2 linked regions of the Homo sapiens genome follow. The protein of the gene in region 2 interacts with the protein of the main gene of each other region in a pairwise test. Each region holds a gene or a part of one and is shown on either strand. Other genes may lie near its edges. The genes, in order: EIF4G3 and MKNK1.

Region 1 (3,919 bases), about 26 Mb from region 2:
AGCATAATATAGCTTTTGGTTTTATTCATTCTTTAGAGGACATCTTTGGGTTTCTTAAGCATTGCAGGCAATTGATGGAAGATTTTAAAATCAGTGGTAGTGGCAGTCTCAAAGTGAATTATTGTCCTGAGTCCTGATACACAGAGTGGAAAACTTAGTTATCTAAAGGACTGCCCTTGAGGCCTACTGTCCTGAATGCATTTTTAGTTAGTGTTGGAAACAAGTTTCACTGGACTCCCAGTGGGGCATTCCCACCCAAGCACAAGTGCCCTCCTTACCCACAAAGTAGCTTGCCTTTTCAGTGAGTAGAGACATATACATACATACATGTGCATGCACATACGTGCGCATACACGCACATACACACACTCTCTCACTCTCTCTCGTTTTATCTCTCTCCCCTCAGGAGTGATTTGAATTAGACAATAAATAGCCAGACAGCACCCCCAGGAATGGGCACACATGCAGCAGCTGTCCAAAGGAGAAGTCACTTTACTTTCTTTTAAACTTGCAATGTTTGTCTTTATTTTGTTCTTTATATTTTCAAAGTGAAAAGAAATAGTACTGAGTCAATTTCTTTTTGTTTTTTTAAATATTTGTTCTATGTATTTACAAGCCTTAAAGTTGCTCTAAAGATTTCAAGAGTATTAAGAGTACTTTTCTCAGGGTAGCACTTTTTTTTTTTTAAACAATTCTTGGAGTTCTGTGGTCCACAGCATTTCCTTCTGTTTCAATGTTATGTATGTTTTGATTACTATTGTGATTTTTTAAATTTTCTGAAGCAAGCTGAGAGGCAGGCAGAAAGATTTGATGCCAAAAAAAAAAAAATCTTTCTTACCTTGTTCACCCCAAACTTTCTCAAATCTGGACTAAATGCTATACCTTAAAACAAACATGAGGTGCATCTTGAAGGGGAGGGAAATTTATTTCTCTGCTTTTCTATTATACAAGTTGTTTACAGAAACTGCAAATTAAAAAATTACACTGGCATTTGCAGTCCTTAAAATAAATTAAAAGTTCTCAACTTTTTTTTTTTTTGCTAAACATTTTTTTAAGTATGAGTCCTTGTTTAAAAAGAAAAGATTAAAACAGAAAATATTTTCTATAAATAATACATGTATTTTGGTTTTAGTGCTCCCGCCCTAAGGTTTGAAGTTTACTTTTATCCAGTACCTTTTTCCTCCATGATCACCTTTTTTTCTCTTTCCCCTCTCCCACTCGTGCACACGTGGGGGTTTCTGCGAGAATTGGCCTTGCTGCACTGTGATTGGCGAAGACGTGAAACTTTTTAAAAAAATACTTAAATTGTTTCTTTTGTTTCATTTTGTGTATTTGAAGTTTTAGTTATCCTCAGACTCCTCTTCTGCTTCCCGCAGCCACGTGAAGAATGCCGTGACAGATTTCAGAGCCACGCCCTTCCCATTCTGCTCTGCAGGGTCCTTGCTGCTCTCCCATTTGTAGAAGGCATCCTCGGAGATCACCTCCTCGTCATATAGACAATCAAAAAACATCCGCAGCAAATCTGCAAGGAGGTGAAAATAAACTATAAGCTTTGGGACACTGTAGTTATGAGGAAAAGAATATATTTCAAAATAATGAATGACTGAATAAATGTGCATTAATTCCCCCAGAAAAAAGCAATAATGACAATTCACCATACTTGCTCTTGACAGTATAAACAGCCCAACAACTTGTTTAAAGAAGAGGAAAAAAAGATTGAAGCAGTCTAAATTCTTTTTTATTCCTATTATTTTGTACAATTTGAACTTTTTTTCTGTTTTTTTTTTTTTTTTTTTTTTTTTTGAGAGACAATCTTGTTCTGTCCCCAGGCTGGAGTGCAGTGGTGCGATCTTGGCTCACTGCAACCTCTACCTCCTGGGTTTAAGCAATTTTCCTGCCTCAGCCTCCTAAGTACCTGGGATTATAGGCGCCTGCCTGGGTTTAAGCAATTTTTCCTGCCTCAGCCTCTCAAGTACCTGGGATTACAGGCGCCTGCCTGGGTTGAAGCAATTTTCCTGCCTCAGCCTCCCAAGTACCTGGGATTACAGGCGCCGGCCACCACAGTCAGCTAATTTTTGTATTTTAAGTAGAGAAGGGATTTCACCATGTTGGCCAGGCTGGTCTCGAACTCCTGACCTCAGGTGATCCGCTCATCTTGGCCTCCCAAAGTGCTGGGATTACAGGCGTGAGCCACCGTGCCCGGCCCAATCTGAACTATCTTCTGATACCAGTGAAGCTGTTTCATATCATGTTTATCTCAATCTAAACCCTATAAAATTTAAATACGAGTAGTTTTTTACTTTCTTTTTACTATTTTCTGCGCTGCAAGTTTACTGTATTATTTTTACAAAATTTGGGGGAAGGGAGAAAGGCAGGATATGCTTTTTATTCCTTGTAATGTTGTTTTAAAAATGAAGAGGTGGCCGGGCGCGGTGGCTCACACCTTTAATCCTAGCACTTTGGGAGGCCGAGACAGGCGGATCACGAGGTCAGGAGATCGAGACCATCCTGGCTAACACAGTGAAACCCCGTCTCTACTAAACATACAAAAAATTAGCCGGGCATGGTGGCGGGTGCCTGTAGTCTCAGCTACTAGGGAGGCTGAGACAGGAGAATGGCGTGAACCCGGCAGGCGGAGCTTGCAGTGAGCTGAGATTGCATCACTGCACTCCAGCCTGGGTGACAGAGCGAGAGTCCGTCTCAAAAAAGAACAAGAGGTGATCATTCACATGGAAAACATGAGTAAAAGCTATCTCATCTGGATTTTATCCAGTGAAACTACACCTGTTATTTACTGTTTTAAACGTCCAAACTATCCGTGTGATTTTAATTCTCGGTTTTACTCTCATAGTAAAACTGAGAATTATAGTTATCATATATAATAAGTTATTAGCTTATAGTTATTATAGTCAGCTCTCCGATCATTTATATTAATGGAGGGAGGCAGTGGAATAAACAATAAATGCTAATCAATATTAGGTTTATCATGAGTCGTATTAACTTTTTTTTTTTTAAATGGAGTTTTGCTCTTTTTGCCCAGGCTGGAGTGCAGTGGCATGATCTCGGCTCATTGCAACCACCGCCTCATGGGTTCAAGTGATTCTCCTGCCTCAGCCTCCCAAGTAGCTGGGATTACAGGCATGCGCCACCACGCCCAGCTAATTTTGTAGTTTTAGTAGAGACGGGGTTTCACCATGTTGGCCAGGCTGGTCTCAAACTCCTGACCTCGGGTGATCTGCATGCCTCGGCCTTTTTTTAAAAAGACTTATCTTTGTAATTATATTAGTTAAGCTAATATTATCAAATTATCTGATTCATGGTAGATTGTCTCTTCAGTTACACTATAAGGATAATTTGCTTTCATCTTTTCCTTTATCTCCAAGAGCGATTCAGGACTAGGAAAGAAGGAATTTTACAAAAGCGAAAATAAGGAAGTACCAAAGAACTACTTGAGTGCTCTCTCTAATAGCTATGTACTGCCCGCTTTAACAAATACCAACTGAATTTTCAAGATGTAATAAAAATCATTAGTTAACACCAAGTATCACTAAGACTTAAGTGTACAGGTTACTTTGTTTCATTAGCCAAGAATTAATCATAACCCTTAACTAAAAACTATTCTGAAACTCCTTAGTAAATATAGCATGGTAAATACACTACACTTAGGGTCTTTGTTGGGTGTCTAAAGATTCTAGAGTATCATCCTCAACATCATTAACCATTTTCATGCCCTAGACCTGTGTTGTCCAATATGGAAGCTATTAGTCAAACATGGTTATTTAAATTTAAAGTCAATAATTCAGTTCCTAAGTCACAACAGACATATTTAAGTATAGAATTGCCACATGTGGCTCATGATTACCATACTCAATGGTATGGATATATACTACCATCACTGTGGAAAGTTTTATTAGGCCTG
Region 2 (4,024 bases):
GTAGTTCTTGCCTAGGTTTGGAATCTTTCTTGACTGAGGGATTTTAATTTGAGCCCCAAGTACCATCCCTGGACTTGATGGTAGGGGCAAGCTCCCCCTTCTCCTCAGAGCACCCTCCTCTGAGCTCCCACAACTCTACATACAGGTCTACCAGAGGCAGAGACTGGGCACATGAAACACACCTGTCCCTCCCTCTCCCAGCCTGCGTGGGGAAAAAGCTCCCAGAGCAAGGCCTGCGCCGCTTATGCCACGTCCCCAGCACCTAGCTCAGGGCTAGCGTGGACAGGCACTTTGGGTTTGCAGAATAAATCTTCTAAGGCGGATCTGAGGTTTGGCATCTAAAGGCATCTGGAGGCTGCTCTAGAGAGTCAGGTAGGAACCCAAATTGGGCAATAGCAACTGGGTCACACGAATTGCGATTATGGAGGTGTATGACTTCCTTGTGTAGCTCCTAAAAGCTGGCCATGAGGCTGGTGCCAAAAAGGTTTCCCACACTGCTTAGCCCTGGCTCTTTGGGAACAGGGCAGTCCAGCTGTAAAAGGGCTCCAGAGTCAAACAGCCCAGGGCTGCTGTGTGGCCTTAAGCAAGTTAACTTGATTGCCACTCCTCACCTCTCTCATCTAGAACACCTCTCTTAAATTCATCGTGAAGATTATGGATATAATTATATCCAGCCCTTAGCACCACGTCTGACATGTGGTAAGGACTTACTATTTTTTTTGAGACAGATGCTTGCTCTGTTGCCCAGGATGGAGTGCAGTGGCGTGATCGCAGCTCACTGCAACCTCCGTCTGCTGGATTCAAGCGATTCTCCTGCCTCAGCCTCCCAAGTAGCTGGCATTACAGCACCTGCCACCATGCCTGGCCATGGTAAGGACTTAATCCTGGTGGCCACTATTATCACTGTCCGTCTAGTACCGTACGTGCCCCTCACTTCTGCTCCTTTCATTAAATACAAGGGCAGAGGGAAGCCTTGTGTGAATAACCCATGGGTAAGGTCTGTCTTTGGGCTGTAAGTTACAGTTCAATGGGCAAAACAGGTTTTTTTTCCTGCCAACAGTGCTAGGAGGGGCCTTAAGGTGCTGGAGGGCAGAGGATCCAATCTAGGTGAAGGAAGGGAAGGGTGGGAGATAGATCCAGAGTAGAGGAAAAGAGAGTGAGGAGGGGAAATGGGCAGGGAGCCCCTTTGGAGAAAGCTACCTGAGCCTAGAGATGGGCTCCCCCGGCCCCCACCCCCATGGTGGCTGAGAGCTTGAGGAAGAGCATGGCGTGGGGGTGGTCAGAGCATTTACCTCTGGAGGACTTGCGGCGTGGGGAGTCCCTTTTCTGGAGCTTGCTAGAATGGGAAGGACAGATGTGTAGGTAAAGCACTGCTCCCTCCTTTCAAGAACTGCCCCACCCAAGCCAGCAGTGGGTAGGTTACTATAGGCTGCTGGCGCAGCACAGGGAAATGGCTATGCTTGCTTGCAGGGTCAGGCCTTCCAAGCAGAGAGCAAGAAAGGTACAATCTGCAGCCGCAGCCCCCAACATAGCTGCTTCTGCATGGAGAGCCCCTCTTTCCCTTTGCCTGGCAAAGTCCTAATCATCCCCCAGGACCCAGCTCAAGGGTCACTTCCCCTGTGACGCACATTTCCCCTTCCCTGCCACCTTCCTGCCTCAGTCTCAGGCCCGGGATGGGGAGTGGGGTCTTGCTCCCTTTGTGCCCCTAGCACTTTTCAGAAGCCTTTATCATGCTGTAACTTATCCCCTTGTCTACTTCTCTCCACTAGAGCACAGAGACAGGGACTGGGTCTCACTTGTCCCTCTGGCATGTGGCAGGTGCTCACTTATGGGTCTGGGAATGAGCCAGTTAGACACTCAAACTGGGTCCCCATCTGCAACATAGGATGGCAATGCTTGCCTCCTTCCACTGGTAGGGTCACTGAGGCTGGCCAGAGCCTGGCACACCAAGGAGACCAGAAAGTCATGGGAGCATCTGGCAGACCCCTTGGAGGGCAGAGGTCAGGTATTGTGAGTAGCCAAGGAGGATTTTTAAAAATGTTTTCTAGTGAAGACATGAATTCTAAGCTTAGGGAAAAAATACGATCATTTGCCTTTCAGGCCAGCTGTACCCAGACTCCCAGACCATGAGGAGAACCTATGTGCCCCAACTCGGCCACACAACAATCAGCGCAGCACGGCCTTGCTCACTTCTGGGTGTCCTCAGCTAATGATGCTTCTATATAAGAGGAGGATGCTACAGACTTCAAATGACAATAGGATGCTTGCGGGGCTGGGTGCATGTACCAAATCCCCAGAGGACTCTGTTGGGGCTTAGTCTGTGGCCAAGTTTACAGCCAACTCTATGGCCTATAAGGGGCTCAGTCTGGGGTAACAGGAGGAGTCGATTCACTCTACACACTCAGGGATAGACGCTGTCCTCTTCAGCTGCACCAGCCACAAGGCTGGTGCTCAGCACTTGCTGGCATGACAGCTTCCTTGTGGCCATGCCACAGGCCTGAAGTGGTGGAAAACACCCCTCCCTGGAGTCACTCACCCCCTGCACCCATGGGTGCTGCAGAACTTGGGCGGCGCTAAGTCTCTGCTTTGCATCTCGCACCAGGAGCTTGGAGATGAGGTCTTTGGCTTCACTGGAGATGTGTGCCCAGTCCTTGTCAGGAAACTCATACTTGCCTTCCTGGATGCTTTCAAACAGCTTGTTCTAGGTACAAAAGATTCCTCCTGAGGCCACACTGCCAGGGATGGGCAGGATGTGCCTGTCATTGTTTTGATCAACCGGCTTCAATTGATCTCAGCTGTAGCTGCAGCTCATGGCTTGGGGATGCCACAGACTGGGGCCTCTTCCCAGACTCACCCCGCACTGTCCCCTAGATGATCAAACTATATAGAATGCCCTTGGCAGGCCAGGATGGCTATGCCCTTGGTGGGCTGGATGGGTGATGAGTGGAGATCACCCATAGAACAAAGCCCAAATTCCTTGGCTCTTCCTAGAGGACTCTCTGTGAACCTCTCAGGCCTCATCTCCCACTACCACCGACCTACTACTCCACTCTTCCTTCCTAGACACTCCAGCTATTTCATGTGCCCACATCTATGCCCGTGCTGTTCCTTCTACTTGTGATTCTTGTCCCTCTTCCGCAGGGCAGGATGCACCCTTTAAGAGTCAGTTCAGGGCTGGGCGCGGTGGCTCACGCCTGTAATCCCAGCACTTTGGGAGGCCGAGGCGGGAGGATCACAAGGTCAGGAGATTGAGACCATCCTGGCTAACACGATGAAACCCCGTCTCTACTGAAAATATAAAAAATTAGCCAGACGTGGTGGCCGGCGCCTGTAGTCCCAGCTACTTGGGAGGCCTAAGGCAGGAGAATCGCTTGAACCCAGGAGGCAGAGGTTGCAGTGAGTCGAGATCGTGCCATTGCACTCCAGCCTGGGCGACAGAGAGAGACTCCATCTCAAAAAAAAAAAAAAAAAAAAAAAAAGAGTCAGTTCAGGCATGATCTTCTAACAATCCTGCCCTGAACTCCCAGCTGGGCGGAGTGTCTGATTATCTCTATTTTACCTTGTGGCCACCGTGACAGGAGCGGGAGAGGGCACTATGAGCCCCCATCCCGATCAGGAACGCTCTCCCAGCCCAGTCCTGCTTGGCATCCCCCAACCACACTGACCCCTAGCAGGGTCTACGCAGTGCTCCCTGGGGCCGCACTCACCTGGCACACCCTGCAGACCTCGCCCCGGTCCCAGCCACAGTCGGCCCCGCAGTGACCCACGAAGGGTGGGTAGCCACTCAGCATGATGTAGAGGACCACGCCCAGGCTCCACAGGTCACAGCGCTTGTCGTAGAATGTGGCCTGGTCCGTGAAGACCTCCACTACCTCAGGGGCCATGTATTCTGCAGAGCCACACTGTGGGGGCCAGGGTTGGGGGAGGGGGAGATGGCAGAGAACAGAGAGGCTTAGTTACAGCAGAGGGGATGGCAGAGAGCAGACTGTGATGGGACTGGAGCAGGAGGCTGGAAGGATGAGAT

What was found.
Region 1: the proteins of MKNK1 (region 2) and EIF4G3 interact in a two-hybrid assay, tested with the Homo sapiens proteins (one large-scale study listed by BioGRID and IntAct).

The regions. Positions count from the first base shown.
Region 1 is NC_000001.11:20,805,979-20,809,897, forward strand, and holds the end of EIF4G3 (eukaryotic translation initiation factor 4 gamma 3), read right to left. Parts: intron 1,523-3,919; coding exon 1,341-1,522; 3' UTR 501-1,340; downstream 1-500. UniProt on the Homo sapiens protein: Component of the protein complex eIF4F, which is involved in the recognition of the mRNA cap, ATP-dependent unwinding of 5'-terminal secondary structure and recruitment of mRNA to the ribosome. Functional homolog of EIF4G1.
Region 2 is NC_000001.11:46,558,942-46,562,965, forward strand, and holds part of MKNK1 (MAP kinase-interacting serine/threonine-protein kinase 1), read right to left. Parts: exon of another isoform or gene 3,910-4,024; intron 3,903-3,909; coding exon 3,708-3,902; intron 2,733-3,707; coding exon of another isoform or gene 2,702-2,732; coding exon 2,537-2,701; intron 1,337-2,536; coding exon 1,293-1,336; intron 871-1,292; exon of another isoform or gene 729-870; intron 1-728. UniProt on the Homo sapiens protein: May play a role in the response to environmental stress and cytokines. Appears to regulate translation by phosphorylating EIF4E, thus increasing the affinity of this protein for the 7-methylguanosine-containing mRNA cap.